Linked DNA regions of Homo sapiens. The protein of the gene in region 2 purifies or fractionates together with the protein of the main gene of each other region. This does not show direct contact. Each region holds a gene or a part of one and is shown on either strand. Other genes may lie near its edges.

What was found. The genes of interacting proteins can lie anywhere in the genome.
Region 1: the proteins of SAMD4B (region 2) and IFIH1 purify together in Homo sapiens (co-immunoprecipitation; one large-scale study listed by IntAct). This does not show direct contact.

Annotation. Positions count from the first base shown.
Region 1 is NC_000002.12:162,308,685-162,313,056, reverse strand, and holds part of IFIH1 (interferon-induced helicase C domain-containing protein 1), read left to right. Parts: intron 1-2,123; coding exon 2,124-2,292; intron 2,293-2,473; exon of another isoform or gene 2,474-4,150; intron 4,151-4,372.
Region 2 is NC_000019.10:39,368,987-39,374,230, forward strand, and holds part of SAMD4B (protein Smaug homolog 2), read left to right. Parts: intron 1-175; exon of another isoform or gene 176-462; intron 463-668; coding exon 669-1,139; intron 1,140-5,244.

The DNA of each region.
Region 1 (4,372 bases), on a different chromosome or scaffold from region 2:
ATCCTTATATGCTTGGACTCAATAACGGCAAAGAAAGCTTGAAAAATATGATTCCACAGTAAAAGTTGACTTAATAGAATAGTGGTTGAAGAAAATTTTGTGGATAGAATATGCTTAGGGATTTTTAATAACAGCATTTGTTGCCTCACTGGTTCTTTTTAAGGAAATCCTTCCTGATTGCTTCAGTCAAATATATTTAAAGCTGATTAAAGGATGGGGTAATAAAATATGAGAATGGCTGAGTTAAAAGAAGACACTGAAACCAGTCTTATTTACATCTATAGCAATTACTTGTTAAATTAGCAGATGATAATAAAGATGTTACAACATCAGGGAAGCCAAAGAATTTCCATTAGGAGACTAAGAGAGCTAGAAAAAAATGGTAAAAAATGAGCAAAAATCTGCTTAGAAAATGTTGTGGGTGACATGGACTGAATTCACTTGAAATTTACTGAGTTCAAATAGTTATTTTTAACCACTTCTTGCCAGAAAATGAATTTAAAATTGGAGAAAATTATAAGCTATAATTATAGTTCAAGAAGGCAGGATTCAGCCTCTAAATTCAACTGCCTGGGATCAAATTCTACTTCTGCCACTTACTCACTTTGTGACCTCAGAGAGGTACCTAAACATCTCTGTGCCTCGGATTTCTGATCTGTAAATGAGTTAATATTGGTACCTATTTCTGGGCTGCTGGGTTAATATATTCAAGTTCCCTAGAACAGCATGCTTAACTACTAGATGCTAAGACGGAAATATCCCTTGGGTAGAGACCATGCTGTATGTGCTTGTGCAGGTGAGGTGTTTGTAACAATAACTCTTCCCAATCATCCATAATAGTTCTAACACTGAATTAGTGCCAGACATTGTTCCAAAAATGTTAACAAATTTCTGACATAAAAGGTTATGGAATATATTTATAGAACTAGAAAATACATAAATTTGTAGGAAAGAACTAAACAATCCAAATGATACATGTGGAAGATTGGCAAATGTTGAGAAGGACCTTTGATAATATCAAAGTCAATATTTCTTATCTGGGAGGCTGATAGAATCACATGAGATGTTTTACTTTTTCTTTAATATCTGAGTTCCTAACATAGACAAAATAAATCATAATCTTTTAGGGGTGTTTCCTAGACATCAGTATTTTTTAAGGCTTTACGGTTGTTTCTAACATGCAGCTAAGATATAGAAACTCTGAAATTTCTTTTCAGCTGCCTTGTAACCACATATTGTAACCAAGGTCTAGGGAGATGAAGTAAATTGCCTAATGCCACAGAAAGCTAATGATGTCCTGCCTAACTTCTTTCATGTCTAAACATGGCTTGAGTTACTCTTTCCTCCAAATCCTTATTGCTATATTAGGACCTAGGGAAATGCACTGTGACAATGATTACACAAAAGATCCACATTTAAAAGAAATTTACTAATCTAAAAGAGAAAATAAAAGAAGGCTAAAGACTCTAATGAATGGATATAAAAATAATTCTGCCCCATATTTCCAAAAAAAAGATATAACAATAAATTTCCCATAACATTAAAAAAACACAAATTTGAGAAAAATTGATTATAGTAATAATCAACTATGCAAATATTACATAGGAAAAAATATAAATCTGCAGTAGTAATTACTTATTTCATAATGATAATCATGAAGAAAGGAGATAAGAAATGTTTGATTTCCCATTTACAGACTCCATAGATTGAAAAAATATAGCCAGCCCTAGATATACAGAAAGAAATTGGTGAAAATAGACATAACATGGCTGCAGACTAAAGATACTTTCTCTTCTATCCTTTATTCAGGAATGGCTGAGGTAAAATTTATTTTCTAGGTGTCAGGTTTGAATAATTCAATAGCTTTTAAAAAAAATGGTTCATATTTAAAAGGACACTTGGTCCAGAGATTTTTGTTGTTGTTGTTGTTGTTGTCCCGGAGATTTTTTTCCCTGCCGACTTCAGAATTGCTACAGGTAACATTGCTATTTTCTTCAATGTTTCAATGTAAGCCTTTATTTATACTTATGCTTAATTGCTCAGTTTTTCTAAAGGGTATTTCCTGTTTAAGGTTATTCAGAAGATGTTTGATCTTACTTAATTCTAATTTTCTCTTACAACAGATTGCTGCTGCAGAAAACAATGGAAATGAATCAGGTGTAAGAGAGCTACTAAAAAGGATTGTGCAGAAAGAAAACTGGTTCTCTGCATTTCTGAATGTTCTTCGTCAAACAGGAAACAATGAACTTGTCCAAGAGTTAACAGGCTCTGATTGCTCAGAAAGCAATGCAGGTATTTGTAATTTTACTGAGGAAGATTCTTCAAATTCTGCCTAGTGATTGAGAATTCAATAAAGCAGAAAGACACAATGCTAAACACCAAGATTTTTAGAATCAAAATTTTAAGAGTGGAACATATGTGATAGATCATCTATTTTATCACCTTAACAAATGAGGAAATTGATGCCTGGGAAAATATCAACTGATCAAAGACCATTTTTCATCCAACCAACACTCTTTCTACTACCTTATTTTAAAAACAATATGACTACCAGAAATTTTATCAAGATTATGTAACATTAAATATACACAAATACATTGGAAGAAAGTATTTTAGTGGTTATAAAAAATCTGCTGCATATTCTTCTGAACATTTTTATACATTTTAAGCAATGTATTAAGCATTTGATAAAAGGATTGTTTTGTCAATATATCTCAACCTTACCTAATGTGAGATTTTAAACAGCATTCAATAATAGTAATAACATAACATTTTATAGCTCCTTCTCCTACATTATTTGTAAATCTCACTTAAACTGCTATCTTATTTTTCTTTTCGTAGTATGCATCCTATGTTTCCAAAAATATCATATGAAAGACAAATTGAAAGTTAACTATTAATTAATTATAATCATTGCAGTTTTGTTCTGGTGACCCTAACTAATGAAAACTTTGCTGTAAAAAGTGGGGTGCTGCTGTAACAAACACCTAAACGTGTGGAAGTGGCTTTGGAACTGGGTAATTGATAGAGACTGTAAGAGTTTTGGGTGAATGGTAGAAATATGGGTGTTCAGGGTGATTCTGGTGAGGTCACAGAGAGAAATGAGAAAAATGTCATTGGAAACTGGAAGAAAGGTGATCCTTGTTATAAAATGGGATAAAACTTGATCTCACAAGTAATGGATTTGGATATTTGGCTGAGAAAATTTCTTAGCAAAATGCTGAAGGAGCAGCTTGATTTCCCCTAACTGCTTATAGTAAAATGCAAAAGAAGAGAAATTAATTGAAGGAGTTGTTATGCAAAAAGGAACCAAAATTTAAATATCTGGAAAATTCTCAGCCTATCCATATGGCAAAAAATGAGAAATTGTGTTATAAAGAGAACAACCAATTGATAACAAGATCATGGGTGCTACTGATGGACTTAATCAGCCATTTCAGCAGAAGGTAGGAGTAGAGATATATTATACCAGCAAATACACTTCCAGTTTGAACTGAAGGAGACAGAGAAAGCAGGACAGAATGAGAAAAGGATACTGGACTTTCTGGATTCTACAGAACCAGACCATAGAGCTATTTGGCTGTGAATGTGTACTATTCTTCAGGGAAAGGAAAGAATGCCCCCAAAAGTGATACAGAAGTCATCAGGGTTGCCACTTCCACCACAGACCCAGAGGCCAAGGCAGTTTCCTTTTTGGTTTCAAAGGGCAAAACTGTCTCTCTGGTTTTAGTGAGCCCTCAGGATGACCCTGCCTAGTGTCTCAGAAGCAGAGCTATCCTCACAGAAAGCTGTGTGGATGGAGCCCTTAGAGAGAGCAGGCTGTCTTGCAGAGCCCTAGAACCTGCCATTCCGTGGACCTGGAAGGCAGAGCATCAAACCAAACAGAGCTATTCTCAAGCCTTATAAGCCTTAAGATGTGACAGAATTTACCTTAATAAGTTTTGGATTTGCTTGGGACCCATCACCCTTGCTTTCTTTCCTATATCTCCTTTTTGGAATAAGACGTCCATCCTATGCCTGTCCCACCATTGTATTATGGAAAAGAAACATGTAGCTCAACTGGTTTCACAAGTTCACAGCTGGTGATGAATTTGCCTTATCATGAATCACACCTCTAGTCTCATCTACGTCTGATTTGGACAATGTTTAGGTGAGACTTTTGACTTTAGACTTAGAGTTCATGCTTCAGTGAGTTAAGGCACTTGGGCTGATGAGATGAGATGAATGTATTTTGTATGTAGTAAAGATATGAATTTTGGGAAGCCAATGGTAAAATGCTACAGATGGAATTTTGTCCTCCTAATACTCATATGTTGGAACCTAATATGACTCTATCTGGAGACAGTGATAGTAGGAGATAGTTAAGATTAAA
Region 2 (5,244 bases):
ATAGAGGCCATGAAGAATGGAGGAAGGAGTCATGGAGATAAAGCATGAGAGCAGGCCTGGGGACAGGAGTTGTTCAGATTCCAGAGTAGCAAGTTTGGCTGATTGGGAGGCACTGCAGGTTTCTGAGAACAGGAGTGATAGAACAAAGAAAAATTACTCTACACCAGCTGTGGTGGGCACATGACTGTAGTACCAGCTACTTGGGAGGCTGAGGCAAGAGGATTGCCTGAGTCCAGGAGTTCTGGGCTATAGTGTGCTATGCTGATTGGGTGTCTGCACTAAGTGTGGCCCCAGTATGGTGACCTCCTAGGAGTGGGGGACCACCAGGTTGCCTAAGGAGGGGTGAACTGGCCCAGTTTGGAAATGGAGCAGGTCAAAACTCCCGTGCTGATCAATAGTGGGATTGCACTTGTGAATAGCCACTGCACTGCAGCCTGGGCAACATAGTGAGACCCCATCTCTTAAAAAAAATAAGACAAAAATTACTCCAGAGGCAGGGTCAGTGTGTTTGATCTCACCTATATGAGGGATAAGTTTGGGAGTTATGAAAAGAAAATCGTTATGAAAAGAAGATTGGAGCTGAGGGAATAGGCCATAGGCAGTGCTCTCAGGTGAATAGGAGTACCCCACCCTGGCTCTCCTGATATTTCTTCTTATCCCTTCTGTAGCCATCGTCAGCCAGTGGCAGCAGGAGTCCAAAGAGAAGGTGGTGTCCCTCCTGCTGTCCCACCTTCCCCTGCTTCAGCCAGGCAACACAGAGGCCAAGTCGGAGTACATGAGGCTACTGCAGAAAGTGCTGGCCTACTCAATCGAGAGCAATGCTTTCATCGAGGAGAGTCGCCAGCTGCTTTCCTATGCCCTCATCCACCCAGCCACCACACTGGAGGACCGCAACGCACTGGCCCTCTGGCTGAGCCACCTGGAAGAGCGGTTGGCTAGTGGCTTCCGCTCCCGGCCAGAGCCCTCCTACCATTCACGTCAAGGCTCAGATGAGTGGGGGGGCCCTGCAGAGCTAGGCCCTGGGGAGGCAGGGCCAGGCTGGCAGGACAAGCCACCCCGGGAAAATGGACACGTGCCCTTCCACCCATCCAGCTCAGTGCCGCCAGCCATCAACAGTATTGGGAGCAATGCAAACACAGGTAAGTGGCGGGGGTGTCCCAGAAGGCCATGCCTACTTGAAAAAGGTTGGACTAGGCTCAGTGAGAGCTCTCTCGCTCTGTGGCATTAGACAAGTCACATAAGCTGTAGGCCTCAACTTTATGAGGCAATGCAGAGGCTGTGAACTGGCTTTCCCAGAGCTGAATCTGACCTACAGACATGTCTTATTGAACCCATACTTTGGTTTGGTTTTATTTTGTTGTGTTGGGTTTTTAAATAAATGTGAGTGGTACAAAGAATCAAGAATTTTTCCCTAAAAATGAGATTTCCAGCCTTTCTTGAGAAGTCAAAAGATCTAGCAACTCAACAAGATCTGTTTTCCTAGTGGCAGCAATAATATAGAGCTTAATGTTGAGCATGCCCTTTAGACCCTGCACAAGTGCCCTAGTCTGCCTCTGCTCCCACCAACCCCCCTTTGGGCATTTCTGATATATACCTGGCCTCTAAGGGCATCAGGCTATGACGCTTGATGGAGGTGTGCATACCATCATCTGAGATCCCTTCCAGTTCAGACAACATTATGGATTTTATGTATCTGGCCTCACTTTACAGCTTTGTTTCTGAGAACACTGTCTGTATAAGACAAAACTCATGCTGCAAGGTATTTGTAATAGTAGGTAGCATTTTTCAGCATTGACTATGCTAGGTACTCTTTTATAGACACTTTTCAGGTATGATCTCAGTCCGCATCACAACCGTATCATTAGCCCTATTCAACAGATGAGGACATCGGGACTCAGAGGTGAAGTGATGTGTTCAAAGTCACACGTAGAACAAGTGGTGGAACAGACCCAACCAGTCTGATGGCAGAGCCTGCCTCTGACCACTACACTGTCCTGCCAACTAAGCAGGTTTGAAAGAGCTCTCTTAGTAAAAGCCCTGCAGGCGGGAGTGAGCAGAAGTTGTTGGTATCCCAGTGACTTTTTGAAATGCACAGGATAAGGGAGGGTGGATTTTCCAAGCCATGGTAAGGCAGCATGACCTGACCCAGGGTGAGGGAGAGGGTTCATGATGTAAACCTCAGAGTAGCTAGTCACCTTCAGCAGGCACTGGTTTAAAGCAAGACAAGAGAGAGTGACAGTGAAATGTCACATGTGTCAGTGGGTGGGGGTAACCTCGGGTCCCTAATGCCCCGCTGTCTGGTACCTGGTGCTCATCAGTTATTCCTTGAGCCTGTTTTTCCCCCAGTTAGTGTGGCTATTCTGGTCCATCTGCCTCCCTCCCAGTTGCTGGTGAGAACCTGGGAAGATAGAGGGATAGAAGGGCAGTTTCAGGAAACTTAGCAACCTGAGGTGTCTTGGACCTCATTTTCCAGTCATGGAGCATCACAGTTCCAGGATGGGAGGATGTATTAATAATGATCATTCTAGGCAAAAAATATTGAGTGCTAGTCCGGGCATGGTGGCTCACGCCTGTAATCCCAGCACTTTGGGAGGCCGAGGCAGGCAGATCACCTGAGGTCAGGAGTTCGAGACCAGCCTGACCAACATGGTGAAACCTCATCTCTACTAAAAATATAAAAATTAGCTGGGTATGGTGGTGCATGCCTATAATTCCAGTTACTCGGGGGGCTGAGGCAGGAAGGTCGCTTGAACCCAGGAGGTGGAGGTGGCAGTGAGCCGAGATCTTGCCATTGCATTCCAGCCAGGGCAACAGAGCGAGACCCCATCTCAAAAAAAAAAAAACAAAAACACACATCGAGTGCTTAGTCTTTACTAGGAGCTATTCTAAGAACTTTATACATATAAACTCAAGGTTTAAAGCCAGGCATTCTGACTATAGACTTCATACTCTGAACTACTATGCTACACTACCTCCACCAAAAAGTACCTCTCCTGGAGATGCTCATCCCTCACCAAGGGGAGGGGTCACCCAGGCAGGGTGCCTATAAATTTCTTTGTCTTCATACCTTTTGTGCTCCCCATCATGGGTACCCCAGCAGCCATTAAAGGATGAAGATTGAACAATGTTGATAGGGGTTTGGACCAAAAGAGGAAAAGGAATTGGGCATTCCAAGTAGAAGGCACAGCATGAAATAAGCACGGGGTGGATAATTAGAGGGGACAGTATACAGACAGATCTGGCTGGGGTGGATTCGAATGAGTAATAACAGTAGCAGAGACTTGTGCTTACCGTGTGCCTATCCCTCTGCTAAGGACTTCATGCAGAAATGGAGGCAGAGAGGTGAATGAAGTGACTTGCCCAAGATCACACAGAGGCGACAGAGTCAGAGTCAGGATTTGAACTCAGGCCTGTCTTTACCCTCAGACCTCAGTGTGTGAAGGCTACATTCTGGGGGGCGTTGAAGGACAGGAGAAGCTTTTGGATTCCAGGCAGTTGCAGGAAACAGGAAATCATTAAAATATTTTTGAGTGGGGAGCAAGGATTGGCCTTTGAGGGCAGGCAGCTTGGGTTTGGGGTGCTGCCAAGAACAGATCAGGATTTCTTGGAGAGTGCAAGGCCCTGGATCTCTGGCCGGCATTCTTGTTTTTGTCATTCTCATGCTGTGGCCAGCCTCCACCCCAGTGCGGAGCCAAGCAGGGCTCCTCAGGAACTGCACGATCATTCCAGTCAGGGTAATTTCCTGCCTCTCAGCCTCTCCTGCCTACTTCTTGGCTGAGAAGGGAGAAAGAAGGAGGCCAGAGACACCAAAACAGGCAAAAAGGCCTGTCTTGAGGATTCCCCAGTCCCCCAGGGCCCAGAGTGTGCCATGTTCCCCAAGAGTGCTGAGTGGGGACAGAAGCCAGGGCTGAGGGAGTCTAGAGGCTGAAGAACTCCTGGGAAGAGGACCCTGGACACTCTGGGGTAGGGCAGAAACTGGTATTAAGGGTGGGCCACTGCCTTGCCCTGTCCCTTAGGTGACTTCCTAGCCAGGAGCATTAGTATTGTCACAGCTGAGGGAAGATGCTCTGGGGCCTGCACCAGGCTAGCCCTCCTTCCTGGGCTGGGTGTCACTGTAGCACTGGCAGGAACCCCAGCCTTTCCATCAGAAACAAGGCTTGGGCTCTGTCTCAGCCTGTCAACTCCCGTGGGAACTGGGGCAAAGGGCTTCAGCTCCCTGGGCCTTGATGTCCTCACCTACCCAGGGTGAGGCTCGTTGGCTTTGTTTCATTTCTTTTTGTCTAGGCTGACTTGGGGTACTTCTGGATGCCATAGGTGGAGCTCAGAGGCCCTCTTAGCACCCTTTTGTCCTTTATGAAACTTCGTTGGAAGGACTTCTGTGTGTCATGCCCTGTGCCTGATCATGGGATTGCAGAAGTAATTGGACTGGGCTGCCATTCTCCATGGACCCACAGTCCAGTGCAAGAGGGAGGCTAGTGAGGAGGGCAGCAAGCAAGAGGGAGGCTAGTGAGGAGGGCAGCAAGCGCCAGGCCTGAGGCAGCAGCAGAGGGGTACATGACCGAGGCATGAAGGGAGAAGTGGCTGATGGAGAAGAGTTGGCGAGGTGAGCGAGGCAGAGGAAAAAGCACAGATAAAGGTCTGGGAGCTCATGGGAACCTGCCCTGTCTTGGGAGTGGTTAAAAATCAAGTTGGAGGCCAGGCATGGTGGCTCACACCTGTAATCTCAGCACTTTGGGAGGCCAAGGCAGGCGGATCACCTGAGGTCGGGAGTTCAAGACCAGCCTAAGCAACATGGAGAAACCCCCGTCTCTACTAAAAAAATACAAAATTAGCCAGGCGTGGTGGTGGGTGCCTGTAATGCCAGCTACTCAGGAGGCTGAGGCAGGAGAATTGCTTGAACCCGGGAGGCAGAGGTTGCAGTGAGCCGAGATTGTGCCACTGCACTCCAGGCTAGGCCACAAGAGTGAAATTCCATCTCTAAAAAATATATATATATATGACCAGGCACAGGTGGCTTACGCCTGTAATCCCAGCACTTTGGGAGGCCAAGGCAGGTGGATCACCTGAGGTCAGGAGTTTGAGACCAGCCTGACCAATATAGTGAAACCCTGTCTCTACTAAAAATACGAAAAACATTAGCTGGGCATGGTGTTGGCCACCCGTAGTCCCAGCTACTCGGGAGGCTGAGGCAGGAGAATCGCTTGAACCCAGGAGGTGGAGGTTGCAGTGAGCCAAGATTGCACC